Linked DNA regions of Homo sapiens: region 2 is linked to region 1. Evidence: fine-mapped expression QTL. Tissue or cell type: skeletal muscle. Region 1 holds a variant in brackets; the other region holds the start of a gene. All regions are shown on one strand. Distances are from middle to middle. Region 1 has its middle 25 kb from the start of MIR4430. Region 2 holds the start of RASGRP3 (RAS guanyl releasing protein 3).

Region 1 (17,678 bases):
ATAGACATCAATATATAGCCACAAAGATAGTGAATAATAAGGGAAACACCACCACCAAACAACAAAATTAAGTAACTGACCCTAAATAAATGGAGATCTATGAACTGCCTGTCAGAGAATTCAAAATAATCATCTTAACAGAGCTCAGTGAGCTATAAGAGAATACAGATAACTAAATCAAATCATGAAAACAATATGAAAGCAAAATAGGGGATTCGATGAGGGTATAGAAACCATAAAAAAGAACAAGGCAGAAATTCTGGATCTAAAGAACATAGTGATGGAACTGAAAATTCCATAGAGAGCTTCAACAGTAGCCTCAATCAAGCAGAAAAAAGAATCAGTGAGCTCAAAGACAGATCATTTGAAATATTCAGCCAGAGAAACAACAACAACAACAAAGAAGAAGTAAGAATGAAAAAAGCCTATAGGATTTATGAAACAATATCAAGCAATCCAATATATACATTAGGGGATTCACAAAAGTAGCAAAGAAAGAAAAAAGAGCAGAATGCTTAGGTAAAGAAATAATGATAAGAAACTTCCCAAATCTGGAGAGGCAAATGAGCATCCAGATCTATGAAGCCCAAATAGCCCCAAGCAGATTAAATACAGAGATCTTCACCAAGACACATTACAATCAAATTCTCAAAAGACAAAGAAAAAACTTTGAAAGCAGCAGTAAATGAAATCGAACCCTTACGTTACATACAAAAATGAACTCAAAATAGATTAAAACTTAAACTCAAAATAGATTAAAAACTTAAACTTAACACCTGAAAACTATAAAACTACTACAAGAAAAGATAGGGGAATATCTTCTTGTCATTGGTCTCGGCAATGATTTCTTAGATATGACTCCAAAAGCACAGGCAACAAAAGTAAACACAGAGAGTTGAGATTGCATCAGACAAAAATGCTTCTGCACAGCAAATAATCAACAGACTGTAGAGACAGCCTGTGGGATGGTAGAAAATATTTGAAAACTATGTATTATATCTGATAAGGGACCAATATCCAAAATATGTAAGGAACTCAAAGCAACTCAATAGCAATAAAACAAATAATTCAAATTTTAAAATGGATAAAGGACCTGAAGAGGTATTTCTCAAAAGAAGAAATACAAATGGCCAATAGGTATATGAAAAAATGCTCAGCTGGGCACGGTGGCTCACACCTGTAATCCCAGCACTTTGGGAGGCTGAGGCGGGCAGATCACGAGGTCAGGAGTTGGAGACCATCCTGGTCAGGAGATCGAGACCATCCTGGCTAATACGGTGAAGCCCTGTCTCTACTAAAAATACAAAAACAAAATTAGCCAGGCGTGGTGGCAGGCACCTGTAGTCCCAGCTACTCAGGAGGCTGAGGCAGGAGAATGCTGTGAACCTGGGAGGTGGAGTTTGCAGTGAGCCGAGATCATGCCACTACACTCCAGCCTGGGCGAATGAGCAAGACTCTGTCTCAAAAAAAAAAAAAAAAAAAAAAAAAAAAAAAAAGAAAGAAAGAAAGAGAAAAAGAAAGAAAAGAAAAAAGAAAAAAACATTTAAAATAGAACTATCATATACTTCAGCAATCCCACTTCTGAGTATTTATCCAAAGAAAATGAAATCAGCATGTCAAAGAGATACCTACACTCCATGTTCATTGTGGCATTATTTATAATAGCCAAGATGTGGAATCAGCCTAAGCATCCATTGACAGTTGAATGGATAAAGAAAATGCGGTATATACAATGGAGTGCTATTTAGCCTTAAAGAATAAGAAAATTCTGTAATTTGCAACAACATGGATAAACCTGGAGACTATTATGCTAAGTGAAATAAGCCAGACACAGAAAGACAAGTTCTGCAGGATCTCATTTTTTGTGAAATCTAAAAAAGTTGAACTCAGTAACAGAGAGTAGAATGAGGATTGCAAGGGGCTGGGAAGAGGTGAGAATGAGGAGGTTTTGATCAAAGGGTACAAAATTTCAGTTTGACAAGATGTATAAGTTCTGTTGTACAGCATAATGACTACAGTTAATATTGTATTGTATACTTGAAAATTGCTAAGAGGATATATCTTAAATGTTCTCACCACAAAAATAATGATTGGTATATGAGGTGATAAGTATGTTAAATAGGTGATTTGATCTTTTTGTAATGTATACATATATCAAAACATCATGTTTTACATCATAAATATATACAATTTTAGTTTGTCAATATCTTAATAAAGCTTGGGGGCTGGAAATAACGATAAGAAAAGTAAATCTCTAGTCCCTATTGAGTCTTCCGAAGACTCTAGTCCCAAGTGACAACTGACTGCAACCTCACAAATGAAACTCCTTAATCTGACCTTCTCCTGAATTTCTGGCCCAAAGAAATCATGTGAGGTAATAAATGCTTACAGTTGTTTAAAGGCACTTAGTTTTGGAATGATTTGTTACACAGAAATAAGTAATAAAATACCTTTCTTATCTTTACTAAAATGCATAATGGTCAAATATACAAAAGTTTGCATTTTGTATTTGCTATATATCATAAATATTTTCACTGTAATAAATATTCCTTTTTTTTTTGGAGATGGAGTCTCGTACTATCACCAGGCTGGAGTGCAGTGGTGTAATCTCGGCTCACTGCAACCTCTGCCTCTCAGGTTCAAGCAATTCTCCTGCCTCAGCCTCCCTAGGAGTGGGACTACAGGCATGCACTACCATGCCCAGCTAATTTTTGTATTTTTAGTAGAGATGAGGTTTCACCATGTTGGCCACAATGGTCTCAATCTCCTGACCTCATGGTCTGCCCCCCTCGGCCTCCCAAAGTGCTGGGATTACAGGCGTGAGCCACCGCGCCCGGCCTAAATATTATTAAATATTCCAATGTCATGAAATATTCTGTTGTATGTCATCAAACATGGTTTTTTCTAGATTCCTGCACAATATTCTATGCTATCTACATAGTATAACGTATTATGTCTTAAAAGTAGATGTCTGAAAAAGTAATGTCTCAATTGCAATGACGAAAGGTTGGTTGAGAAAAAACATATATGCATATATATGCAAGGTAACTCTGCATACTTTGTTAATACTTTCATTCATTCACCAAATTTAAGATTAGGAAGTTGGTATGTGTCATGCACCTGATCTTATGTCTGGTAATCTGGGAGAGGTAGAAATGATGAAGACATTGTTTAAGGTCTCAATCACACTTGCACAGCACTTGGCTTTTGTCTAAACCTACCTAAAGCCCCAAACAGAGAGTAATCATGTTATACCTGGTATGCATAATTTGAAAAACATGTCTAATCTCTACCACATGTAAATTTGTGTCCTAATGAATCTCATTACAACAAATGATACAAAATATTACTTAAACATTTACTATATGTAAGGTTATATCTGGTTCCCAGAGGGATTTCTTTAAAATAGGTTTATTGAAACATAATTCACATACCATACAATTCACTGCGTTTTGCTATATTATATAGTTAATTTTTAAATTGTAATAAATATATATAACATAAATTTGCTATTTTGACCATTTTTACGTGTACTATTCAGTGGTATTAATTACATTCACAATGTTGTGCAATCATCACCACTATTTGCAAAACTTTTTTATCACACCAAACAGAAACTTTACAACTATTAAGAAATAACTCTCTATTCTCCCTTTCCCCCCACCCCCAGCCACCTCTAATCTACTTTCTGTTTCTATGAATCTGCATATTGTAGATATTTCACATAAGTGGAATCATATAATATTTGTTCTTTTGTGTCTGGATTATTTCACTTAGCATGATGTTTTCAAGGTACATTCATATTTTAGCATATATGAGAACTTCATTCCTTTTTATGGCTGAATAATTTCCCATTGCATGTCTATGCCACATTTTGTTTATCTCTTCATCTGTTGATAGACATGTGGGTTGTGTCTGGTTGTGTCTGCCTTTCAGCTATTATAAATAATGCTGCTATGAACATTAGTGTACCACAGAGAGTTTTTTTTAAAGCACAAAATAAGGCCTAGACATGAAGGAATTTATAATTAGGTTGTTGAGAGAAGAAACTCTTGGAAAATTAACCACAGAGGCAAATAGTAGTTGAATAAATTAAAGAAACACCACCAGACATGGGATTAAATATATAAGAAAGTATTTATATAGTATTACAGTATATAAATGTTATAGCATTTCTGAAGAGGGCAAATTCACTCAAGACTGGTGACAGCTTCATCATCAAATGAGGAAGAACAAAAATGTTGTTCACTTCATAATTTACAAAGTTTCTGACATCACAGTTTCAGTGGGGTTGAAAACATGTGATCAGATTTTATGTGTTTAAAATCTGAAAGAGACTTGAGAAAATAAAGGTGGTATGTGATGGAATACTCACTGAGAATCTTGGCAGTGAAATCAGAGAATCCAAATGGGTCATCAGAGGGGTGCCGCAGGTTCAGGTAGATTGGGTGTAGTTTCCATGGCAAAGAAGAGATATGGATGTTTTAAAAGAAAATATCCTAGAAACAAAAGAAATTGAGAGAAGACATTGAAGAAGGATGCATTCATTGACCAGAAGGTGAGGAGACAGTTTCAGATAGAAAACACAGACATGGGCCGGGTGCGGTGGCTCACGCCTGTAATCCCAGGACTTTGAGAGGCCAAGGCGGTCGAATCACTTGATATCAGGAGTTCAAGGCCAATATGGTGAAACCTCGTCTCTACTAACACAAAAAATTAGCCAGGCATGGTGGTGCACGCCTGTAATCACAGGTACTCAGGAGGCTGAGGCAGGAGAATGACTTGAATTCAGGAGGCGAAGGTTGCAGTGAGCCAAGATCGGACCACTGCACTCCAGCCTGGGTGACCAAGTGAAACTCTGTCTCAAAAAAAAAAAAATGTGCACACTCCAAGGTTGGGGCACCTCTTTGAGTAGCATGTGGCACAATTACCCTATGTTTTGTCTTTGTCAGAGGGCCTCCATTACCAGAGAAACAGCCCTAGTTCCCAGCAGAAGAAATAAGAGAGTGTTCCAGAACAGTCTGTCCCCCTGGCCCAGCCTCCTGTTCCTTGGGCTACATACATAATCTCAACTCATTTGTAGGTCCCTGATTCTCACTGTTTTGTGAAATCAACCAGTGGGACCACTCAACCCAGATTTCTTGACCTTCCCTGAAGGCCCATTCATGCCTGACTTGGTCACTGCTTCCCCCTCTTTTTTTTTTTTTTTTTTTGAGACGGAGTCTCGCTCTGTCACCCAGGCTGGAGTGTAGGTTCACGCCATTCTCCTGCCTCAGCCTCCCGAGTAGCTGTGACTACAGGCACCCGCCACCAACACCTGGCTAATTTTTTGTATTTTTAGCAGAGACGGGGTTTCACCGCGTTAGCCAGGATGGTTTCCATCTCCTGACCTCGTAATGCACCCGCCTCGGCCTCCCAAAGTGCTGGGATTACAGGAGTGAGCCACCGCACCCGGCCCAGTCCTTCCTCATTTTCTATTGATATATTTTTTTAATGGTAGTCTCTGCAGGATCCAACAGTTAATGGCACTCACCAAGAGATTTTTCTTTAACTGACTCGGAAATTTGTATGTGCAATTTGAATGTGAAATTGCACACATTCCCTCCCTTCCTTTTCCCCACCCTAGAGGCTGTTGAGGATCATTTCTTGAGGCTCAGTCTCTAGTCTTCCTCACCCTTTCTCCAAGGAGAACTGGACAATCATGCACAATTCTCATGTGCCTGCATATTTAATTCTAACCATTCTCTTCACTTTCCTCTCTTCTACTTCTTAGCCAAGTGTTACTTCACAGAAATCTCACCCTATTTGGGAACCAAAAAAAAAAAAATCCAAAAAATTTCCAAAAAAAATTGCCCTACTTGGGCCGGGTGTGGGTGGCTCACGCCTGTAATCCCAGCACTTTGGGAGGCCGAGGCGGGTGGATCATGAGGTCAGGAGATCGAGACCATCCTGGCTAACATGGTGAAACCCCATCTCCACTAAAAATACAAAAAAATTAGCCCGGCGTGGTGGCGGGTGCCTGTAGTCCCAGCTACTAGGGAGGTTGAGGCAGGAGAAACGTGAACCCAAGGGGCGGAGCTTGCAGTGAGCCAAAGATTGCACCACTGCACTCCAGCCTGGGCGACAGAGCGAGACTCCGTCTCAAAAACAAAACAAACAAACAAACGAACAAAATTACCCTATTTGGGAACCAACAAAAAAGAATGGCTACACATTAACAGCAGAACTAGTCGTACTTTGTCCTTCAGGAAAAGGCAAGCACAAAGTTTAACAGTAAAATTAGACATAAAAGCCTAAAAAAGGTCTCTCTACCTAAGGGTCACTTAGATAAGGCAGTCCCCTTTAAAAAAAAGAATTCCATTTACTTCCTCATTTTTCGTTGGTAAATTTGCTTTTCCTCCAATATTAAGAAACAAGATAAATATGATTTATCTCTTACGCTTGTCCCTGACTCTAGTATAGCACCTGGCACTTCCTGGATTCTTTACTAGTGTTTGTTGCTTTGAATTCAAGGTGGTTTTGTTGATCCAGTATATACTTTTTCTGTTTGGTTAATTAACATATTATTAATATATTAATGTGATATAATTATTAGCATATTAATATATGATATAATGTATTAATGTAGAAATAGTACATCAATAGTTAGATTTCATTGAATAATTTCAAATGCATACATGTTTAGAATAAATAATATATTATAAATACATTGTAATAATTTCGTTGTAGATACGTGGCATTTTAGGTGCAGTATGCAGTCACTATTTATAACTTTGTTTCTATGGGGAAAATGTAAAGTGAATTCAGAGGGCCAAGAAAATTATTAAAAACAAACTTTTGGACCATTACCAATTTGTAAATCATGCAATGAATGGTCATTATTTATATATGTCTTTAACTTTTATTTTGATTTCAGAATTTTCTGACTGGTTAAACTCTAGTTTCATAACCAAACCCTCATGGAATAAGACAAGAACCAAAAATGTGATCATTCCAGTTGGCTGCAACTCATTGCCAGGATTTCAGAGACCTATGTTTCCAGGTCTCTGCCATTGGTGGGGCCATAAGAACCTACAGTGTCTTCTGATTTTATCCACTTCCACCAGTTCTATTTTTGTATCTCCGTATTTAGCACACAGAAGCTATCTTTATCACACCAGCTGACTGGCATGAGAGTCCCCAAGGCATAGTAGTTATAGAAGATTATTATAGCATACTTCCTATCCTTCAAATAAGACAATGCAAAATGCAGAAAAGACATCAGCAAGTGGTCACAATGTTGGAAGTATGTGCGTGTGTGCATGTGCACTTGTGTGTGTTTCCATTGCTAAAGATTTATTTCTTTGTACTAAGTTGTAGGCACTATTAGGAGCATAATGTCTATAATGGTTTTTGGAACTCGATTTTAGGCTGTGTAATTGAATCTATTCCTATACCTAAAATTCACTTCAAAACATTATGATAAAGTCTTTTACAAGCATATCATCCAGATTTCAAATTTGGATAATGTTTATTAAAAAAACTTCTATTGCCCTAATTCTCAACTGAGGAATCCATAGTTACCCAGCCCAGGTGAAGAGCTGAATCATTCTAATAAGCCAAATCTCCAAAACTGCCAGTCCTTGGCTTGCTATTCAACTATTCAATCTTACTTGATATAGAATGTTCAGCTCAAATGTTTCAGAATGGAGATGACTGTGAGTACAGAAAAGGTAGCAATATCTCATAGTCTAAATTTCACATTATTTATGAGCTGTGGGTGGCACCGTAGCTCTTCTGTTTAGATTTGCACTGTCTTATACAGTAGCCACTAGGCACCTGAAGCTATCAACTTGAAATGAGGCTAGTCTGAGTTGAGACATGCAGTAAGGATAAAATACACACTGGGTTTCAAAGACTTATTACAAAAAGGGAATATAAAGTTTTTATTAGTGGTTTTTTATATTGGGTGCATGTTGAAATGTTATCTTGGATATATTTGGTTAAATCAACTATATTATTATTATTATTTTAGAAAGGGTCTTGCTGTTGCCCATGCTGGAGTGCAGTGAGTGGTGCAATCATAGTTCACTGCATCCTCGAAATACTGGGCTCAAGCAATCCTCTCACCTCAGTCCCCTGAGTAGCTAGGACTACAGGCATGCACCACCATGCCCAGCTAATGTTTAAAATTGTTTTTGTAGAGACAGGGTCTTGCCATGCTGCCCAGGCTGTTCTTGAAATCCTGACCTCAAGCAATCCTCCCACCTTTGCCTCCCAAAACACTGGGATTACAGGTGTAAGGCACTATCCCCCACTCCTTAAACTATGATATTAAAATTCATTTTATCTGTTTCTTTTTATTTTTTGAAATGTGGTCACTAGGAAATGTAAAATGAACTATGTAGGTCACATTAGTGGCTCACATTTTATTTATATTTTATTTTTTTAATTTTTTTGAGACAGGATCTCACTTTGTTGCCCTGGCTGGAGTGCAGTGGTGTGATCATAGCTCACTGTAGACTTGAACAACTGGGCTCAAACAATGTTGCCAACTCAGCCTCCTGAATATCTAGGACTATAAGCACGTACCACCATGCCCAGCTATTTTTTTTTTTTTTTTTTTTTTTAGAGACAGGATCTCACTATGTTGCCCAGGCTGGTCACCTGGGTTCAAGTGATCTTCCAGCCTCTGCCACCCAAATTGTTGGGATTACAGGTATGTATTTCTACAGGACTGTGCTGTAGGGTGTTCCATAATAAATAGTAAGAGCAGTAAGTAGTCTTTAAAACTGGAAGTCAGAGCTGCTGCCGAATTTTACTCCATATCAGGCTAACCAGAGAAGAGTATGACTTGGAGTGATGTAACAGCCCACACATGTTTAGTTTCCCCATCCAAAGAATTCTAGTAATACCCAGCAAGACAACTATGAACACAGGCCGCTAAGAGAAATAAATAAATGTTACCACAGCATAATACCTGCCTTACTTAACTGTTTCCTAATTGATAACCCATCCCTCATTTTCATCTAAGGGATGTGCCCATTTCATGGCATGGAAACTAGATATTGAATCATTAATTCACTTGTTTTGAGTTTTTGTTGTTTTATTCTCCTGCCCATTGCTATTAAAATGAAGACTAGGGACAATTTAAAAAATAGAAACATGAATTTGCTATTTATAAATGTAATAGAAAGAAACACTTTTAAGATTCTATGTCTGGGCAACAGGGAGTTATTCAGAGGCAAGAAAAGTCACAGCAATATCGCTGTGCATTTTACTAGCTATGTGCACAGGGAGGCGTTCACACTGACCCTGAATATTAATAAACATAAAAAGTTCAGCAGCAAATCCCTGTTGTGGGATTACCGGATTACTGAATTAAAAACACATTGGAAGTCATTGCTGCCAGCAAAGAATTGTGTAACTGCTGGTAAAAAAGAAAAAAAAAAAAAACAATAGTGATTTCTGTAGGAGAACAAAACAATAATATCTTTGTAATGTTCTGAAATCGCTACATGAATAAAGCTGAGACGGGCTCCCCTGCATTTCCCAGTTTGATTTGCTGACCATCTTGTCTGCCCATAATTGTTTTCTGCCATTCATTTCCTCCAATTGTCAATTATTACTAAAACAATTATGAAAAAAGTGCATGTCTTTGTTTCCTGCTGCTGATGAATGCAGTGAAGTCATAGAACAGGCCAGTGCATCATAATCTTTTCCATTACAATGGATTATGCTGTCACAAACAGGATATAGCCCTTTACTTGGAGGAGAGGCCGTCAATGGCAATGAATTAGCATGAACATATTGTCAGCCATGACAGCAAGAAATCAGAACAGAGACTTAGCTCTGTACATTTTGAAAACATACTGGGTTTTGTTCCTGATTATAAAAGTAGTACATGCTTATTTATCCTGGAGACAAAGTAGAAAATCAAAATCACCATTATCCCACCAACCAGAAATTTTTTTTCGAGACGTAGTCTCGCTCTGTCACCCAGGCTGGAGTGCAGCGGCGCGATCTTGGCTCACTGCAACCTCCGCCTCTTGGGTTCAAGCAATTCTCCTGGCTTAGCCTCCTGAGTAGCTGGGACTACAGGCGCATGCCATCACGCCTGGCTAAGTTTTGTATTTTTAGTAGAGA[T/C]GGAGTTTCACCATATTGGCCAGGCTAAGAAATTTCTATTGTTAACAGTTGGTGTATGACTTTTTAGCTCTTACTTCTTTTTTCATATGTACATATATATTTTTTAAGCAAATGGGGTCACACTATATACATAATTTTGTAGACTTCTTACATTCACTGAATGTAAGTGTAAATGTTCACTTAACATTTACTATGAATAGTTTCCAATGTCATTAAATATTATAATGTAATTTAATGTCTGTATAAAATTTCATATTGTGGAATGTTATTTAACAATTCCCTGTATATTTAGGTTAGTTACAAAATGTATCTGTTATGAATAGTCTTTTACACACGCATTATTGTCTCAATTTATGATGTTTTTAAGAATAGATCCCTAAAAGATAGACTTTTTGCTTTTTACTAAAAAATATATTGTGTATTTTGAAGTAAATATTTAGAATCAAAGATCTAGGAAATCTTAATAAAAAGGCACGTATGTGCATTGAAAGTTTAGTAGCCAAACATATGTGCCTGCCTAAAATGGTAAACAGGTGAAGTATTTTTAATGATTAGAAAGTTTAAGATAAATCTAAAACTGTTCTATTCAAAATGCCTTTCAGGCCAACAAGCTGTAAGGGTGTATGTAATTCCATGGAGTCTTCTTCCAGAATTTCCTAGCACAACTAGCCTTCTTGAATTTGCTATTTAGAGATTCCTAAAGAGCTTGCTTCTAGTGCCTGGCTCTGCTGTCTCTGGGCTGAGCGTTGTTTTCTGGTATTGCCACTAGAGAGCAGCCAGGGACAAGGAGAGGAGGTTGACACCCTTGGTCTTTTCTCTTCAGCATAACCTTTTTCTAAAAATTGCACGATCTAATTTATATGTGGAATATTTTTTAAACCCTAAAACACAGAGATACAGAATGAAACAGTGGCCACTAAGGGTGGGAGGAGGGGGGAAAGGGAAATGGGGACATATAGGTCAAAGGATACAAAATAGCAGACACTAAAGAACAAGTTTGGAGGCTGGGTGCCGTGGCTCACGCCTGTAATCGCAGCACTTCAGGAGGCCGAGGCAGGAGGATCATTTGAGGTCAGGAGTTCAAGACCAACTTGGCAACATGGTGAAACCCTGTTTCTACTAAAAAATACAAAAATTAGTGGGTGCAGTGGCGTGTTCCTGCAGTCCTAGCTATTTGGGAGGCCGAGGCACAAGGATCACTTGAGCCCTGGAGGTGGAGGCTGCAGCAAGCCGAGCTTGTGCCACTGCATTCCAGCCTGGGTGATAGAGGGGGACCTTGTCTTGAAGAAGAAAGAAAAAAAAACAAGTTTGGAGATCTAATGTCCAACCTCAAGATGAAATTTAATAAAATTGTATTGTATTCGGGATTTTTGTAAAATAAGTATGTTTTAGCCACACATGTCATACAAAAAAAGTAACTATATGAGATTATAGATTCTTCATCATAATCTTTATTTCACCAGATGACCAAGGGAAAATTTAAAATGAGCCACTAAGGGGAAAAACGATTCTGGAGGTTAATAAATAAGGAAAACCTCTGGGTATAAATGATTTCCATTTTCTCAGAGAGAGTAACCAAAAGATGGAGAATTCTACGAGGGCCATCAAAGTTACGAACAATAGAAGACCTGGAACCTGGCTAAAAACTGGGTTCTAGCATGAGCAACTGGCGCCCTTAGCTCTTTGCAGATGGAGAAAGTGAATCTAGAGCCAGAGGCTCAACATTCTGTATATGAGTCTCAGTTGTGAGGGCTTTGGCCCCTACACATGGTGGTTCCATTTTCCATCTGCCTCTCATTAATGATGTGATCATGGACATGTTACTTAATCTCTCTGACCTCACTTTTCTCAACTACAAAATGTGGCTGGCAATGGAACCTGCCGATAGATGGTTGCAGAGGCAGAAGGAGATAATGGAGATAAAAGGCTTGACATCGAGTAAGTGCTTAATAAATGTTGTCGTTTTTATTTCCAGTTCTCACCTCCCTCCTAAGCTGTTTTCCATTCTCAGCTGTTCGCTTACTATTTCTATCTGACTATTCCATCATTCCCTCAAATTTCCTGTGTTTGAAACCAAAATCCCCATCCCTCTCACTAACTCCCTGACCTGCTGCTGTCTCTTTGGCCATTTCTTTGAATGGAGCCATAAAACATAACATCCTCTTGAACACATTCTCTCCTCCTATAACCATACCCAATTAGTTTGCAAAACGCGTCAGTTTGTTCTCAGATGTGTCTCCATTGGGCTTCTTTCTCTCTGTCTTCATCAGAACCCAGGCCTCGGTGCCCTGATCTCTCCCCCAGCAAGTTCTGCCTCCAACCGGCAGATCTTATGCACGCCATTTCCCTTTTCAGAACTTCTCATCGGCCCCAGGTGTCTTTAAATTCTTGACTCCTTAGTTCACCATTAAAGTCCCACCACCTTCTGAACCCAGCCTCCTCCAGGCACTTCTTTCCTGCTCCATAGGCTCATTCCCTCTGCTGCTGTCAAGCTGGCTGACTCTCAGTTCCCTTGAAGAGTTGCCAGATTTGGGAAATCAGAATACAGGGCCCCCAGCTAAGTGTGAGTTTCTGATAAACAGCAAATACTATTTTCGTATAAGTAGGTCCCATGCACTAAGTCTCATACACAGTCATGCAGTAGGGCACACTTAGACTAAAAAAGTGTTTGTTGTTTATCTGAAATTCACATTGAACTGGGCATCCTGTATTTCATCTGACAGCCCTATTCCTTGGGCGCAGGAAGGCCATTCCTGTCTCTGCTCATGCTCACAGCTCCATTCTTATCATAGATGTCCTCATCTCCCTCATCCATCAGCTCTCCTCCCGCTTACCAAGACCCAACTCAGCCTCAGGCCTCCATGAAGCCCGTCTGGATCAGGTCTTCCTTAGGTGGCACTCATTATCTACGTCATTAATTTGGCTCCACATACAGGATGCTTTGTGTCCTGTATACTTCCCTTTTTTCAACTTAACATTGAGTTTTTCAAGGATAGAGATTATATTGTAAGTTAGAAAACTTAATAAATAGGTGTTCATGGTGTGGTGCTGCTTGTAGACCTGTAATACAGGATGAGACAGTAGGAGAAAAGTCTCCAAAAGCCAATTGTCTGAATTTAAGGTGCCTGTAAATACACAAGAATCATCGTGCAATACCCCTCTACCCCACCCAGCGTCAGGCCAGATGGCAGGTGGGTGTAGTTTCCAGTCTGAAGAAGAAGACCTTGGCATGCTTCTCCCACATCCCTCTTCAACACATCCCCCAAGTTGTACATTGTATTTGGTGACATCTAAATTTCTTGCTGCTTCATATGGTCTCTTCAGTAACCTGATTTTACTTGTATTTAAATGTGAAGGCCAGGGTTGGCTCTATTATTATGTAAACTGTAAACACATGGTGATTGTAGGAGTTACTCTGGAAATAAGGCAATACATTTCTATGTAATTAATTAAAAAGCTAAAAAATTGATAATTTTTTTCAAAATTAGCTAACTCTAACTTAAAATGTTCTCAGCAACTTGTAGATACATAAAACAATCTGTAGAACTACCGTAGAACTATTAAGCAATTTCTAAGAACTGTATTTTAAATACCTGGCATTTCATGAATACAATTTTTTTTTTTTTTTTTTGGCGATGGAGTCTCACTCCATTGCCCAGGCTGGAGGGCAGTGGCGCGATCCCGGCTCACTGCAACCTCCACCTCCTGGGTTCAAGCGATTCTTCTGCCTCAGCCTCCCAAGTAGCAAGGATTACAGGCATGTGCCACCACGCCCAGCTAATTTTGTATATTTAGTAGAGACGGGGTTTCACCCTGTTAGCTAGGCTGATCTCAAACTCCCAACCTCAGGTGATCCACCCGCCTCGGTCTCCCAAAGTGCTGGGATTACAGGCGTGAGCCACCACGCCTGGCCCCATGAATACATTTATAAATCTATGGTCATCTGGAAACCAATGACCAGCAATGAGCCTTTTACAAGTGAAAAAATATATTCTTGAAATAATACATCTAACTCATAATTTTATCTTTCTTAAACCTTACATACAGTTAAAACATTTTCATTCTCATAATGTAAACATGTGAATGTGTCAAATGTGAACGTTGTTTTGAAACTCTAAGGGAAATGAGTTCAACATGATCAGAAATCAGAATTGCTGTAAGCAACATTGCTGTAATTAGAGCCATGTGGCGTGGCAATTAATTAAGTCACCTTAGAGTCCACTCTGTGGAAGATCTAAAGTGGACTCAGAACTGACTTTGCAGCACTGGAATGTCCTGAAAATAAATGCTGAGGGTTTGTTTGTTTGTTTCTTCAGATCTATCATATTTATTCAGATTAATTTCATTTCCCTCTCTTTTTTTTTTTAACCACTTAAGTTCAGCTAAGAAATCATGATCTTTCTATTCAAACATATTATACTTTCTAACAGTTTCCATGGAATTATAATTTTCTAATCAGTAAAAAATAACCCTTAAATTCTCCCAGGAAAGAAGACGGCCAGTGGGATCCACACTGAGCCTGAGCCGAGTCCTGGCCTCCTGTGCCGGTTCTAGCTGGTTCTGCTTTTCTGGCTTCCAGCTTTGCTATCTTCTTGGGACAGATTCTAAACATCCCAATCTCAAACAGGGATAGGGCAAAAGAAATAACAGCCACACATTTCCTTCTGCTCTTCCTTTTCAATAATCCACCAGAACCGTATTCCTCTGTTAGTCATTGTGGTAACATTAATCAAGTTACTCCAAGACACAAATGTGGTTATTATCAGCAGCGGATGCAAATATGGTGCATCATTTAAACAAATGTGCTTGTTTAATGGCAAAGAATGTTAAAAGAATTTGGAATGTCCCTAGTAGCTTTCCAAGTTTTTGTGGGCAACATCAACTGTTCTTGGATTTAATCCATTTCCTTTCAACCTTACCATTTCCAAACCCAGTGACATTTTTCAAGGTACTCAAAACATAATGAACGAATGTTTGGAAATAATAATTTAAATCTACATAACTACTATGAACACTTTCTATCACTGGAAACTATTCAGTGCTGTTTTTTGTGGTTCTAGAAGATTCTCCATTTTCTGAAAAATGAATGTTCAAGACAAAAAACCTGTATTAAAATTTGTTATCTTTGCTTAATTTTATACAAAATTTAAATTTTATATATAACTTTTATACAATTGTCCATTTCTGCTTGAAGGCCTATTTATTAAAAGTATTCTAAACTATTATTCATCAAATAAATTATAGGTGGATTATTAATCAGCAATTTGAAAAGGGCAGACAAGCAGACAAATATCAAAAATATATTTTTAAAGGTGATCATCAATGAAATTATTTATACTATCTAAACCCCTGATAATAATGAAACTGAAGAAAGTTTGTAAAGTTATTGTCAAGAAACAACTTTTTAAAATATTTATTGTAAAAACCTGAAGATGTCATAACCAAGGTTGATTTCTACATTTCTTCAGAGATATGAGCAAAGCATATTGAAAAGTTACATGAGGATCGGACCTCAAATCATATCCATTGTCTGTGGCTAATATCCATAGTTCATGAAGTGCATTAAGACGCAACAACAGACAGATTTTTAAATGACACTTACCTTTGCAGAACTGCAATAATGTTGATCCCTATAGTGAATTGTCTTTTTCTTTCCACTTCATCACCTCTAGCAAGTTTCTCTTCAACGTGCCTAAACACCTAGAATTCCTGTTCTGTCTTCTAAAATGCTGTCATCACCTCCATTGCCCAAATCTAGTTCAAAAGTGAGGAGAGAAAAAAAATTGAAATTTGCAAGCTGTTTATGCCTAACAACAACATTGAAGCTGCTAAGCTTTGAGCTCAATGAATTAAAGGTTGTTTGGCTAAATGGCAGGCAGACTTCCTCCTATTCTTTCCGAACTTAGTTTTCCTGCCTCCAGTGGAGCTTTTTCCTTTCCTGGGCTATAAATAGGCTGGTGGTAAGAGTACTGAGGAAAGAAGAAGGCAGGAAATGTATTTGATTTCAGAAAGCAGCCTTAGGTATATGAGTGCATGTGTGCTTCTTTCAAATGAATACCAACAAACAAACTAAAAATTTGGCCTCAAATAATTCAGCTTTGGTCTGTGCACCATAGTCAACATTTTCTTTAATTTCCTATGGTCTCAGTTTTACTATAAGTTGTCATATCCTATAGACACTTAAATATGGTTGATTCTTCAAGGTGGGAGTGTATGTCTGGAATGAAGGGACAGTTTAATTTGTGACATACATATTTTTTTCCCTTTCAAATATTATACTGTGTATGCCATGCTTTCAAAACATTAATTTTAAAGACAATTTTTAAAACTGTTATTACTTAAGGTCCTTCATATAATTCTATTAGATGTCTATGTATTGATTTGTTATCTAACAGTCATCTATTTATCTGTCACCTCCCTCCCTTACTCTGTCATTCTACACTTACTGTCTGTCAACAGTGTTTGTTTTAGCCACCCAGTAAGTGTTTGTTTTAGCTGCTCTTTACGTGAGTAACACTTTGAGAAGAAGCACAAGGAATTTCTCCATAGGAGGGGCTACTTAAAGAGTGGTCCAAGGACCGGCCAGGCGCGGTGGCTCACGCCTATAATCCCAGCATTTTGGGAGGCCGAGGTGGACGAATCACGAGGTCAAGAGATGGAGACCATCCTGGCCAACATGGTGAAACCCTGACTCTACTAAAAATACAAAAATTAGCTGGGCATGGTGGCATGCACCTGCAATCCCAGCTACTTGGGAGGCTGAGGCAGGAGAATGGCGTGAACCCAGGAGGCGGAGGTTGCAGTGGGCTGAGATTGTGCCGCTGCACTCTAGTCTGGCAACAGAGCGAGACTCCGTCTAAAAAAATTTTAAAAATTAAAAAAAAAAAAAAGACAAAAAAAAGTGGTCCGAGGACCAGTAGCATCAGCAACCCTGGATCAGAACCTCTGGGGCTGGGGCTCAGATGATTAACTTCAGGTGATTCTGATGCTCACTAAATAGGAGAAACATGGATCTACATAATTACTTTGTGTGCATGTTTATTAATATCTCTTCAAAAAGGAATTTAAGAGTAGATTTTTTTAATGTAAGAATCAGAAAATAATGTATATGCTTTTTATGCTGGTAACCTCCATCTAGATGACTAGAAGAGTTTTTAGATCTAATGTTAAGAAGACATACTAATTTCCTAATTACTTGGAGAAGCTACCTAATGTGAGGCAAAAGCAGTGGAAAAAACAAAAGGATAGTATTTAAGAGAGAGACAACAGCACTCACACATGGTGAAGAGTCATCCTACATATAGATAAATTCTAAGCAAATTTTACTAACAGCTATATCTAAAAATTATAAGTTGTCTGAAACAAAACCAAAGTAAACAGTGAAGAAATGAAGCTTCTAATGGAAATACAATGTCCCAGCCCCCACTTTTTTTGTTTGTTTGTTTGAGACAGAGTCTTGCTCTGTCACCCAGGCTGGAGTGCAGTGGCGCGATGTTGGCTCACTGCAACCTCCGCCTCCCAGGTTCAAGCAATTCTCCTGCCTCAGCTTCCCA
Region 2 (14,961 bases), 32 kb before region 1:
TAGAATGCACTATACCTCCACAGGAATAAAGGTGCTATACTCAGGCAGAACTTTCAAGAATGCCGATGGTTTTGTTGGGCAAGGAGCGTGCACACTGAAGAGCAGACTGCAGTTTTCATACCTCAGGAAACAACCAAATTGTCTCTAAAAGGTAACGTTACATCATGCCATAGTTGGTATAACTCCAACTTGACTATATGAGTCTTCAAGACAGAAAAATGATCACTAAGTTCCTTTAAAAACATTACCCTAAGCTGCGGCCCGGCACGGTGGCTCACGCCTCTAATCCAAGCACTTTGGGAGGCCCAGGCGGGCAGATCACGAGGTCAGGAAATCGAGACCATCCTGGCTAACACAGTGAAACCCTGTCTCTACTAAAAATACAAAAAAATTAGCCCGGCATGGTGGCGGGCGCCTATAGTCCCAGCTACTCGGGAGGCTGAGGCAGGAGAATGGCATGAACCTGGGAGGCGGAGCTTGCAGTGAGCCGAGATTGTGCCACTGCACTCCAGCCTGGGCGACAAAGCGAGACTCCATCTCAAAAAAAAAAAAAATATTACCCTAAGCTAGCCAGGCACAGTGGCTCATGCCTATAATCCCAGCACTTTGGGAAGCCAAGGTGGGTGGATCACCTGAGGTCAGGAGTTCGAGACCAGCCTGGCCAACATGGTGAAAACCCATCTCTACTAAAAACACAAAAATTAGCTGGGTGTGGTGGTGCACGCCTGTAGTCCCAGCTACTCAGGAGGCTGAGGCAAGAGAATCGCTTGAACCTGGGAGGCAGAGGTTGCAGTGAGCCAAGATTGTGCCACTGCACTCCAGCTTGGGTGACAGAGTGGGACTCTGTCTGAAAAAACAAACAAACAAAATTATCCTAAGCAAATACGGTGTCTGAAGACTAAGCTGACCCTGTTTCCAAAGTCAAATGTCCATAGGCTTTGGAAATATCATGAGTGGCATGTCGCAAATCGGTTATCCAGTCACTCTTTGCCTATCTGAAGAGAATACAAATTACACAACTTTTTATCACCAAAGATAATTCCACAGATTGTGTAAGTGCATGGTCATGAAATAGTTGAAATTGGTCTTTCTTTGAAAGATAGCATAACTAGGCCAGGCGCAGTGGCTCATGCCTGTAATCCCAGCACTTTGGGAGGCCGAGGTGGGTGGATCACCAGGTCAGGAGATCGAGACCATCCTGCTAACATGATGAAACCCCGTCTCTATTAAAAATACAAAAAAATTAGCCAGGCGTGGTGGTGGGCACCTGTAGTCCCAGCTACTCGGGAGGCTGAGGCAGAAGAATGGTGTGAACCCGGGAGGCGGAGCTTGCAGTGAGCCGAGATCGTGCCACTGCACTCCAGCCTGGGCGACAGAGTGAAACTCCATCTGAAAAACAAAAACAAAACAAAAGAAAGATAGCATAACCAACAGAAAAAGCCTGGCACTTGGAGTCAGTAGACAAGAGATATAGTTGAGCTCTGACAGTTACTTTTCCCATGACCATAGACAAGTCACTCATTTTCTCTCGTCCTCTATTTCCTCTTTGAAAACAATGGTGATGATACCCTCCCTCTTTCATGGGATTATGGCAAGGTACAAGAAAGTGCCTTATGCCGGCATATATAAATGCAGGGGTTCGACTTCTCAATACCAAAGATGAGCTCAAAGATCAAAGCACAGCGACTCTGCACACCACAGACTCTGAAGCTATAATAATCACTTGAAACAGCAAAAAAATCCAAAGACTTCAAATCCCATAGAGCAGTGGAAACATGACACAGGAGCTGTTAACTCCAGGGACTATAAGTGAGCAATCAATACCAAGGGAAAGGAGGATCCAGGAAAGTTAACTTTTTGGAAGCAGATGTCTTTGAAACACACAATTGGGCAAAAACAAAGAAACAAAATAGGCATTGTATCCCAGAATGTGTTTCCTTATTGTAAAAGGACCCCAAAACGAATCAAGCATTTTATTTTCTTTCAAATCAGCTCCAGAGTATGACTTGTGGACTCTGTCGTGATTCTGAGTCCACTTCACGTGTACCCATATAACACCCCCTGTACAAAGCCAATTTCTACAGAAGTGAGCAATTCCTAGCAAGGATTGGAGGCAATTCCCAGTGGTTTTGGTCTAGCAAACCACATCACTGACTACTACTGAGTTGGGCTTAGTTTTAGAGGCAGCAGGCAGGTGGAATTAAAGATTAAAAATTCTTCTTTCATGCGGGCTGGGCGCAGTGGCTCACGCCTGTAATCCCAGCACTTTGGGAGGCCGAGGCGGGTGGATCACCAGGTCAGGAGATCGAGAGCATCCTGGCTAACACAGTGAAACCCCGTCTCTACTAAAAATACAAAAAAATTAGCCGGGCATGGTGGCGGGCGCCTGTAGTCCCAGCTACTCAGGAGGCTGAGGCAGGAGAATGGTGTGAATCCTGGAGGCGGAGCTTGCAGTGAGCCGAGATCTCACCACTGCACTCCAGCCTGGGCGACAGAGCGAGACTGTCTCAAAAAAAAAAAAAAAAAAAATTCCTCTTTCATGCTATAAATAGCTTGATCTTCAAAATGTGTAATCTTGCCAGAACGACCTTGCAGAAACACTGATAACTTCCTCAGAAACATCCACACATGGCATACTTGCTTGATTTTCCTCCTGATTAATAAAAGGTTCCCTGTTGATTACATACTACCTGGTGCTCTTTCCCATTATCTCCAACCCTAATTTTGACACTTAACCTAAAGTGGAGGAATGTGGACAGCCAAATGACATTTTTAAAAGGATTCAGGAGGCAGGTTTCTTAAGGGCTCTGCAAGTCTGATGACCCAGAAAATCCACAGGTTTATGGCCCACCCGTGAGACAGTCAGAGCTTTAGATATGCAACTGGTGTGTGGAGAAGTAGGACTCAGGGTAAATGGCAGGTGCAGGCAGTGAAGAAAAGCATACCTCTCCTCCCTCACCACTGCCAGCTAGTCCCCTGCCCCGTGACCCACCCCTTACACCCACAGCTCAAAAAAACAGCGCAGAGTGGCAGAGTGCATGGTTTCTATTCATCAACAACCTACTCGGACAACCAACCTTCCAGGCTGAGCAAAGGGGATGGGTCTGATAATAGCTTTATCAACACTAAGCCAGCTATTTGGGGTGGGGCATGGGTGGAGTGGCTGTCCTCCAAAGGAAAGGAGTGACAGGAAAACTGGAGGGAAAGGCCAGAAGGGGCATGGGAGCCGTGTGCTGGAGGTTAATAACAAAGTTCCCGGTTGCTGTTCTTACCAACATCAAGACCGTCACTGAACTATTTTCAAAGAGAAAAACATGCCACCAGCCAGCGATCCTATAGAGAGAGCTTGGGCTTGGACTGTCACAGGGGGAAACCTAGCCCTTCCTGTCATGGAGAGCTCGAAAAGGGCATAACACACATTGTGTGTGTAATCATATTGTGCTGGAAATACTCTCATTTGCATGTTGTGAGTTTTTACATTTAAATGTGTGGGATTCCACTTTTATTTTTTAATGTATACAGGTTCTACAGTCAGATCCAGGTGTCCCTCCTGTCTGTGTTACATATGGTCAAGTAACTAAGGGTGTCCCTCCTGTCTGTGTTACGTATGGTCAAGAACCTCAGTTTCCTATCTATAGAACTGGAATAATAATATGTAACACATAGAGTTATTGTGAGGAGACTATGAAAATAAATACACTTGTTTAGCGCATCATTTGGCAGAGTAAGTGCACAATAAAAGTAAGGGATTGTTATTAGCGTTGAAATTATGATGGAAGCCTTGAGCTCTCTCTTCTGGCTCTGCACCGTAACTCCGATAAATTTGCTACAGTTTCCTCATCTTTGATACGAAAGAGTTAAATCGCACATTCTATCATTCCTATCCAGGTCAAAAAGTCTTTGAGTCAATGGATGTACTATCTGCAAGTAAAATCATTATTTTTTATTATTTTGCTATTAATATTTTGAAAAGGCATGGGTTTTTCAAAGGAGCCTGTTGGCTCTCAAAAATACAGCAGTTGGATAATTCAACTGCTCCCATTTAGACATTCCATTTTATTATGGGAGGCTCGATGATTCCGGAGACACAATTTCACCAGAGGGTTCTCTTCCACTATCAACCTGTGGAAAATCTGAAACTATACCAGGAACAAACTCCCTAAAGAATGACTCAGGAGGAACCCCCTCCCCCAGCAGTCAGACAGGGAAGTCACAGACCACATGGCCGCGGGCTGACCCAAGGACCTCACACAAATGCCATACCGAGGAACAGAGAAGTTGGGACTATTTTTCCTCATTGGCCACTCTACATTTTGTGGATTCTTCTACATTTGAAGGAAAAGAAGGTGGAGAACTTCTCAATGTCAGACTAGCCATTTGTTTAGACAGGGCATCCGAAACTGCTTCCATCAGAGAACATTGGTTGGTGCGGTACTCAAGACCCACTGTGCTGAGGGAAACTCGATCGCAGAAGTGCCGTGCCCTGGGTCATTTTTAATCCATTCTCCACAAACAACAAAGGATGGTAAGGGTGGGGAGAGAACAGTGTTCCCTCATGGCAGGGGGCAGAGGGCGAAAGAAAACCGTATAGCTTGAGCCTGTATGAGAATCCATTTGTCACACGAGGAAACAAGCGCACTCCAGGTTGTCCTAGGCTTATCACAAGCAAAACAACTATTTGGTGAGACTTCAAATAAAAACAGCCCCTCTCTGCCCACCCTCCTCAAGATCCACGCGATCTCCAGAAACAGGAACCTGTTTGGTTATCTCCCTGCAGCCTCTGATTCAAAGACCTGTCACTTTCAGAGCTTTACGTCATCAGTTTAGAGCTCTGCCCTCTCTCTTTTCCCCTTTTGCCTTTCCTCTGAAGCATTCTGTCTGGTGACTACCAAGGAAGGACAAAAGTCACCGAACAACAGCTCAGTTCCAGCATGGTGCCTGCTTTGCTGCTCGCCCAAGCGCAAGCACCATTACTGCTGAATGAACCTGAGAAGGAGCCGGTTCTCTCCGTAATTTGGATGCCAGGCCTCCCAGAGTTAATCATCAGCTGCAGGCAGCACTTTCCCAGTCAGGTCATAAACAAGGAAAAAACAGCCTGAGTATCACGAAAACACTAAAATAAGGAAGACCAGCGGCAACCGAACATTTTAAAGTAATGAAGGTGAAGGAAGACCAGGGGCAACTGAACATTTTAAAGTAATGAAGGTGAATTAGCTTGTTGGGGGGAAAAAAAGTCGCTATAAAATACAGCTTTCAATTAGTTGGAAACCATGCAAGAAATCTAAATATGATTTCTAATGTGAATCTAAATATTATTTTGTCAGTCTTCTATATTGCAGACAGTTCTACACAGTTAAATGAGATATTCTCAAAAATTGAATAGGAAAAATCAAATCAGCCATACAATAAATTCACAAGTTACTTTAAACAACTACGTTTTCAGGTTTCAGTGGTAGAAACAGATTAAAATCAAATCTAGTCATCAACTCACTTCAATGAAGTCTCTACTTCATAACCTGAACTTGACTTTGAACCTAAACACCATGGACTAGAAAAATCTTGAACACTGGGAAACAAACTTTCTGTTTCCTAGACAGGAATGAAGCCATATGCCCCATTCATCCTCAAAGTTACAAGACACGTTGCCGAAAATAACAGGTTCTAAAAAAGGGCTGTGAAAACACCAATGGCTGTTAACAGGTACAAATAAAATATCTCCTTCTATCGTGCCAGAGGGAAACCAAAATCAAAATCAAAAGTTGTTGGTGGCTTGCAACACACACACACACACACACACACACACACACACACACGGAGAGGGAATGAAAGAGAGAGAGAGAGAGGAAAGTTCTCCAGTTACTTACTAGGGTGGTTTTGTCGTGGTATTTTTCACATCAGCACTCTGCCTGTCCAGCTGCCAAGTGCCGGAGCACGCCGAGAGCAGCTGTTTCCTTCAAGCTGGGGCTCTGAGTCTTAACCAGTCACATGTACCTCCTGATAAATACCGCCCGCCACCGTGCCAGGAGGTCAGAAACTGAAGATCATTCTTCTCCTCACTCGCAAACCACCTCATAACCCCTGAGTTGGCTCAGCCATCTCATGAGCATGCAGAGCGGGATATTCCACAATTTGTTTTCCTTTAGTGACAAAAGCCAAACAGCTGATAAGTCACACTGAAGGGCAGGTCACTGCAAGTGGAAAGTTAAATGTGTTTGCGTGTGTGTGTGCGCAGAGGGGGAGACTGGCAGGCTCCATGCTCTCTCATCTCACTCAAGTTTCACTGGGGCTCTCGAACGGCAAGAGAGAGGATCACCAACTCGCACAGCAGGTGGAAGTTGCTCTGTGTTAACCCCGGAGTACAACTGTTTGGTTTCGTTTTCTCAGAATCTCAGGCTCCAGTTTGTTAGACGAGCCACAAGCCTGACTAGGTGGCTGGTGCTGGGGAAGGCAGACCCTCACTCACCATCTAAGAATGCTTAGGTTGGACTTCAAAGGCCGGGGCTGCTAAGCCAAGGGACGCTGAGGGGCAAATATGGGAGGGGTTAATGAAGACTATCAAAGGCAGCTTTATCTGAAGAGCTCTTGGAAGTGATTTCAGGTAGCTTTAGACCAAACTTCCGCATTGTTATCTGTTGAATTGCATCGAGCAGCTGAGATTATCAGCCGGCGAGTGTGAATGCAAACAGAAATTATCACCAAGTTGACAACGCGCTTTACAGACGCACTACTGCCCCCTTTGGTGTGCTGGGAACTTGGAGCAAACTGCCGTTTTCTGTGCTGCTCGCAAACGTGGCAAACCATCCCTGATGTTTTGTTGAATTCATATGTCTCACCTGAGCTGATGTTCCCACCCTTCCCTTTTCATCCTCCCTTCCAAGGAAAGCCCTTGAAGTATCTGACTTTACGTAGTGTCTGACCTTGGATGTCTGACTTCTTGGTATAGTAAGGGTGACACTTCCCCGAATCAGTGTCTGAGCCTGCCCTTCAGGTAGAGATATGACATAGAGGCAGCCTATTTGGCAAAGTGAACATCCAGAAAAGATGGTTGAAGTCCCCCAGGGGATTTCTGAACCATAATGTGCCTGTTAAACTATTAACCCTGATTTTTAACACATAATATCTTACTCAGTGTAAGAGCCTGTGTGAGTAATCTTTTATATTTAGGCTTTGTCTCATAATTATTTACAGTGTTAATCAAACCAGAAATTTCCCTCCATATAGAGGATACAGTGTTTTCTAGAATAAGAGAAAAAGACAAAAAACCCTCAGTCTCACCATACTATCAGGGCAGTAATTTGTTGTCAACTTGTGAGAGTCCGAAGAGCAAATGGGAGAATTTTGTAAGCACCAAAACAAATCCCTTCCTCAGCATTTCAAGTTAGTAATAGAAATAAACTTCAGATATAAAAATGCAATGCATAAAATACACATTTCCCTCACAGGCATTTTTGTTTATGTGTTGATGTGACAATCTTCAATTAGAAACAGAAAAAGAGGCCTACTGAGGATTTGAAACATTATTTTGATTTACTTACCCCCTTGTATTTACAGTAATAGAAACTTTTGTGATCTGATGGCATCCATCCATCACTTTGTTTACCATTGACTGGGTTAATTATTCTGATGATCCATTGCATGCCACATAAAGAAACAGGGACTTCTAGAAACTCTTCAATGCCCAACAGCGACAACAGCCTCAGGAAAGTTAAGTTGTATTAGTCCATTCTTGCATTGCTATAAATACTTGAGACTGGGTAATTTATAAAGAAAAGAGGTTTAATTGGTTCATGGTTCTGCAGGCTATGGAGGAAGCATGATACTGGCATCTGTTCGGCTTCTGGGGAGGCCTCGTGAAACTTACAATCATGGTGGAAGGCAAAGTGGGAGCAGATGAGTCACATGGCCAGAGCAGCAGCAAGACAGACAGGGGGCACTTCTAAATGACCAGCGCTTGCCAGAACTCACTATCAGCTGGGTGTTGTGGCTCATGCCTATAATCCCAGCACTTTGGGAGGCTGAGGAGGGTGAATCACCTGAGGTCAGGAGTTTGAGACCAGCCTGGCCAACATGGCAAAACCCTGTCTCTACTAAAAATACAAAAATTAGCCGGGCGTGGTGGTGTGCTTGAACCTGGGAGGCAGAGGTTGCAGTGAGCCAAGATCAAGACCGCACCACTGCACTGCACTCCAGCCTGGGCAACAGAGTGAGACTCTGTCTTAAAATAAACAAATAAATAAAAGAACTCACTCACTATCATGAGAACAGCACTAACAGGATGGTACCAAACCATTAATGAGAAATCTGCCCCTAAGATCCAATCACTTCCCACCAGGCTCCACCTCCAACACTGGAAATTACATCTCAACATGAGATTTGGGTGGGCACAACATCCAAACTACATCATAAGTGTAAAGCAGGAGTCCCCAGCCCCCATGCCATGGACAGGTACCTGTCCATGGTCTGTTAGAGGCCAGGCTGCACAGCAGGAGGTGAGCAGCAGTCAAGGGAGCATGACCATCTGAGCTCTGCCTCCTGTCAGATCAGCTGTGGCATTAGATTCCCATAGGAGCATGAACACTATTGTGAACTGTGCACGCGAGGGATCTACACTGCATGCTCCTTATGAGAGTCTAATGCCTGATGATCTGAGGTGGAACAGTTTCATCCTGAAATCATCTCCATCCCCTCATTCCCGGTCCATGGAAAAATTGTCTTCCATGAAACTGGTCCCTGGTGCCAAATACATTAGGGACCACTGGTGTAGAGGTTCTTTTCTAGTTCTATAGCCAGGAGAGGAAGGGATGGATCCTCAATCCTCCCTATGAAGCAAACTGTTAACACAGAGGCCAAGACCCAGGACCCTTTCAGTCAGAGTCCAGGAGTGTGACTAAAGGTTCTACAATAACACAGCCTTGCAAAGAAATGGGGGAGATCCCATCTTTCTGCCCACACTCCCTACCAGTTCCAAGCATTGTCTTCGACTCAAGAAGAGGTGCCCTCTTCCTGTCAAGAGGCCACCTCCTACCTCGGCTTTGTGTCTCACCCTGTGTCTCCCACCTGCTTAGGACTCTCGACAACAACCACGCCTTCTCTTGCTCTCAGCGTGCGCTCATTAGCTAAACATGCTCACGTTCTCACATTGTCTTTATATCCTAACAACAGTCTTTCTGATTTTTTGCTTTTTTTTTTGAGACGGAGTCTCACTGTGTTGCCCAGGCTGGAGTGTGGTGGCGCGATCTCGGCTCACTGCAAGCTCCGTCTCCCAGGTTCAAGCCATTCTCCTGCCTCAGCCTCCTGAGTAGCTGGGACTATAGGCACCCGCCACCACGCCCAGCTAATTTTTTGTATTTTTAGTAGAGACATGTATTTTTAGTAGTAACATGGGGTTTCACCATGTTAGCCAGGATGGTCTCCATCTCCTGACCTCATGATCTGCCCACCTTGGCCTCCCAAAGTGCTGGGATTACAGGCGTGAGCCACTGCCCCCAGCCAGACTTGCTCTTTTAATTACTGCCCTAACTCCTGCATTCCCTCCACAACTAAACTCCTGAAAAAATACTTGTCTTCACCATCTCACATCCCATTTACTCTCAACCTACTTGTGGCTTGGCTTTTTTTCCCTCACTTCACTGAAACTGCTCTTTCCAAGTCCCCAAAGACCAAAGGCAACCGACACTTTTTGCTTTTTTTTTTTTTTTTTTGAGACGGAGTCTTGCTCTGTCACCAAAGTGCTGGGATTATAGGCGTGACCCACCGCGCCCGGCAATTTTCATGTTTTTAGTAGAGACGGGGTTTCACCATGTTGGCCAGGATGGTCCCGAACACCTGACCTCGTGATCTGCCCGCCTCAGCCTCCCAAAGTGCTGGGATTACAGGCGTGAGCCATCTTACTTGACCTTTTGGCTCTATTTGTCCCAACTGACCAACCACCCCTTGAAAAGCTCTCCCATGGCGTCTATAAAATTTTACTACTACCTCCTTCATCCTCAGGTCTGGGCTTCTCTTCCGCTATCTGCCCCTTAGGTGTGAAAATCCTCTCTTCTCATCTTGCACTCTTACCGCCCCTCATATGTTCTGATTTATTACTGAAGGTCTGCGGTGATTTCCTAATTAATCACCTTGCCTCCAAAAAGCCTGTCTCTGATCTCAATGTATGTTTTACACGCTAGGACTGAAAGCCCCTCCGGGCCATCGTAGGCAACTTTGTATTCCCAGAACCTTCAGGGCTTCACTCCCACTCTAGCTGCCTGCTGCTTTTGTACATTTCGCTGCGGTTGCATTTCTTTCTGTATTATAATTAGGTCTACATGTGTCTGTGTTCCATCCAAACTTTACCAATCTAAGACAAAGCTTATGACTTATTTTATATCCTGCAATGCCTAATACAATGCCTGGCATGTATGAGACACATGGTGGAAACAATCCTCGATGAATAAATGAATAATTAAAGAGAAGGATCTTCTGTCTAGCCCATTAAGAAAAAAATATAAGAAAAGTTTGCAAAACTTGATTTTATATTAGGCTACCAAAAAAAAATTGTAAGTAATTTCTTTCCAAAAGAAATTGGCCATATTCTGTGATCACACTGTAATAAAACTATACATTAATTACAAAAGTGTAAGTCAAAAAGACCCCACGCTCTTGGGGAAACTTTAGAGTTCTTAAAAAAAAAAATCATTGATTGGAGAATAAATTAAAAACACAATTACAGAATGAATGCTTAGAAGGTTTCAGTGATGAGAATACCACATATCAAATATTGGGAGACATAGCCAAAATAATAATTAGAAGCAAACTGACCCAGGAAGAAGTCAAAAAACAACAGATCAGTAACCATGGAAAAATGTAAAAGTTAATAAGGAATTATTTCCAAAAAAAGCTCTTAGTTCAGATTACTTACACAATCAAGTTCTAACTGAGCTTCAAGCAGAATTAACTCCCATGGTATATGAAGTGTTCAAGTGGACAAAAGTAACAGAAAGCTAACATAATACCCTGTCTTAAAAAAAAAAACTGATAAAGCATAATAAAGAAAACCACAGACTAACTTCATACGTAAACATAGGTTGCCCTAAAGATGTAAAAAATAAGGCTGGGAATAGTGGCTCACCCCTGTAACCCCAGTGCTTTGGGAGGCCAAGGTGGCAGGATCACCTGAAGCCAGGAGTTTGAGATCAGCAGGGGCAACATAGCGAGACTCCATCTCTACAAAAAAAAAAAAAAAAAAAAATAGCCCAGTGTGATGGCAGATGCCTATAGTCCTACCAACCTGGGAGGATGAGGCAGGAGGATCACTTGAGCCTAGGGGATCAAAGCTGCAGTAAGGTATGATCACACCACTGCACTCCAGACTGGGCAACAGAGAAAAACTTTTGGATTGCCACAATAATCTTGAAAAATCATTTGATAAAATTCAATATCAATTTTTTAATTAATAAAACAAAATTAAAAGACTGATTCTTAACATGATACTCATGTTAATTCAAATCTCAAATCAAACATAGGCATCATACTTAATGGTAAAATACTGGAAGTATTAATGTTAAAATCAGAAACAAGAAAAGCATGCTCATTATCACTACCATCCATTTAACACTGTTCTAGACATTTGAGCCACTGCAACCAGGCAAGAAAAAGAAACTAAAGAAGAATTTTATGAGAAAAATGGAGACAAAAGTATTCAACCTGCAGATTGAGTAATATTCATTTTCTCAATAGAACAAACTAAAATTTGCTTCTAAATAATTAAAAAGTGAGGTGAACAGTTACAAATAAATATACAAAATAAGTATACAAAATTAATTGTTCTGGCCACGGAACAATTATACAGAAATATATGAAATTTTCCATATAACCCACAAAAACTTAGAAAACATAATAGAAAATAATTCTTGGCCGGGCGTGGTGGCTCACACCCATAATCCCAGCACTTTGGGAGGCCGAGGAGGGTGGATCACAAGGTCAGGAGATCGAGACTATCCTGGCTAACACGGTGAAACCCTGTCTCTACTAAAAATACAAAAAATTAGCCGGGCATGGTGGCGGGCGCCTGTAGTCCCAGCTACTCGGGAGGCTGAGGCAGGAAAATGGCGTGAACCCGTCAGGCGGAGCTTGCAGTGAGCTGAGATCGCGCCACTGCACTCCAGCCTGGGCAACAGAGTGAGACTCCATCTCAAAAAAAAAAAAAAAAATTCTTAGTTATAGTATTATTTATAATAGCAACAACAACAATAACATTTCTAGGAATAAAAAAAGTGAATAACCTATTTAAAAATGTAACTTTACTGAGAAAATTAAAAACAGTTTGATACATTTCTGTATTGGAAAGTTTTTCTGTACTGGAAAACTTAACATTGTAAATATATTAATTCTCCCTCAAATTAATTTATAAATATAATCAAATTTTGCTTAAAATCCCAAATAAATTTTTCAAACAGGTCAAAAATCCTCAAGTTTATTTTAAAGAATAAAAAACTGAGAATGGTAAAGAAAATTTTAGAAAAGAACCACAAGGGAGATATTAGGTACTAAATAGGCTAAAAATAACGTGAATTTAAAGTTTGGTACTAGTGCCAAAAGAACTAGAGCAATGGAACAGAGCCAAAAGCCCAGAAATACACATAGAAGAACTACAGTAAAATGTTTATTGTATTTGTTCAATATGGTTTTTAAACCCAGTGGGAAAAGAATAAACTATTCAAAAACAGGTTAAATCATTAACTATTCGGAAAAATTAAGATGCAATCATTACTTCATGCCATACACAAAGTAAAAGCATGTTAGACTAAAGAGTTAAACATAAAAACGCTGTACAGCAGCACGGTGGCTCATGCCTGTAAACCCAGCACTTTGGGAGGCCGAGGTGGGCAGATCATCTAAGGTCAGGAGTTTGAGACCAGCCTGGGCAACATGGTGAAACCCCTTCTCTACCAAAAATATAAAAAATTAGCTGGGCATGGTGGCCCATATCTGTAGTCTCAGCTACTAGGGAGGCTGAGGCAGGAGAATCACTTGAGCCCAGGAGGTGGAGGTTGCAGTGAGTCAAGATCGCGCCACTGCACTCAGCCTGGGTAACAGAATGAGACTCCATGTCAAAAAAAAAAAAAAAATCACATACAAACTTGAAGAGAATCACATGATTGGTTTTATAATCTTAAAATTGTTTTAATCATGATTAAATACTTTTGTCCTGAAAACGTTTCAATCACAGTCACAACAGAAGGAGCTATAAAGATAAAAGTTCACGATTTAAACCATAAAATATAAAACATATATGTAAAATATAATCCAACGGTAATCAAAATTAACCTACAAATAATAAAATGAGATTCAAAAGTGAAATACGTATGGTAAAGGGTTAATGGTCTTAACATATAAATAGCATTTACAATTAACAACTGGATATTAATAAATAGTTCACAAGGGAAGAAACATAAATGACCAATCTACACATGAAAAAGTCAGCTTCCCTAAAAAAGGAGTATACATTAAACAACGATAAGATACAATTTATTATCTATAAACTTGACAAAGATGAAAAAACGAAAATTCTCAGTGTTGGCAGGAGGTTTGGAAAATGGCACCTTCATACTCTACCAGAAAGAATATAAATCGTACAACATAGGAGGAAGATAATTTTGTAATGTATGTCAAAAGCTTTTTAAAATGTGAATACCCTTTAACTCAGCAGTTCCTGTTCTAGAAATATATCCTAAGAAAAGAATATGGATTGCATATGTATAAGGATATTTCACGCAGCATTACTTATACTAAGAAAATATTAGAAAAACATCTAGGTGCCAAAAGTAGTTGAATAAATTAGAACATATTCATAAGATATGGCACTATGCAATTATAAAATAATGTTGAAGTGGCTGGGTACAGTGGTTCACACCTGTAATCCCAGCACTTTGGGAGGCCGAGGCAGGTGGATCACGAGGTCAGGAGATCAAGACCATCCTGGCCCACATGGTGAAACCCTGTCTGTACTAAAAATACAAAAATTATCCCGGCATGGTGGTGTGCACCTGTAGTCCCAGCTACTCAGGAGGCTGAGGCAGGAGAATCGCTTGAACCTCGGAAGCAGAGGTTGCAGTGAGCCGAGATCATGCCACTGCACTCCAGCCTGGGCAACAGAGCGAGACTCCGTCTCAAAAAAAAAAAAATGTTGAAGCATATTAGTAACATGGAAAAATATTCAGCATCGATTAAGTGAGATATAAAAGTTACAAAAGTTTATTCAGTACAATCCCATTTTTCTAAGAAAATATGTGAATATATTAAAAATCTGAAACATTATATATCAAATTTTTAATAGTGATTATTTCTGGGAGTTGGGGGTCACATATATTTCCTCCTCCTTTATGCTCATCAGCATTTATCTACTGTTTCTATAATAAATATTTATTAGTTCATTTTTTAATGAGATCTTTTTAAAATAAGAAAAGAGATACTGGACTTACAAAGACACTTAAGTACTTCAATCATCTACACAAAGAGAAAAAAACAAATCATGTACACTAAGAGAGAAAGAAAGAAAGAAAGAAAGAAAGAAAGAAAGAAAGAAAGAAAGAAAGAAAGAAAGAAAGAAAAAGCCTCACCATCCATTAGAAAAACCAGTCACTTTTTCCCAAGTCTTGCTTCTTTAACTTTCTGGTCAATATTTGACAGCAAATCTCTGAAAGGTTTCAAGGATACAGGAAGAGGGCGGAAGTGTGGTCTTGCCTGAGCACCTCTTATTCTGTTTCTCAGGGAGGTCCCAATGGGCCTTTGTGCCTATCTGAGCCACCGCCTTAGGTAGAAATTCCCAAAAGGTACCAATCTCATATAGGCACTGTCAGATAGTACAACTTCCCCTGCTAGCAGCTCCCTCCTGAAGCTGTGGGTCCATTTGCCCTACACCAAATTCCACACAAGCTGCGTCAAGTTGGGACGCAAAACCTGCTGTTAATTTGAAGCACT

The links.
Region 2: it holds the start of RASGRP3, and the variant in region 1 is fine-mapped to the expression of RASGRP3 in skeletal muscle (FUSION, PIP 0.92).

What each region holds. Positions count from the first base shown.
Region 1 is chr2:33,434,641-33,452,318 of GRCh38, reverse strand. It overlaps a transcript of RASGRP3 not described here. Among named protein-coding and RNA genes, the nearest start is that of MIR4430, 25 kb to the right of the region's middle. The variant T/C (reference allele first, on the strand shown) is at 10,126.
Region 2 is chr2:33,467,611-33,482,571 of GRCh38, reverse strand. It overlaps RASGRP3 (RAS guanyl releasing protein 3), which reads right to left and starts at 5,923. Exons shown (of 18, transcript NM_001139488.2): 1 at 5,865-5,923. RefSeq lists enhancers at 2,638-2,807, 6,268-6,587.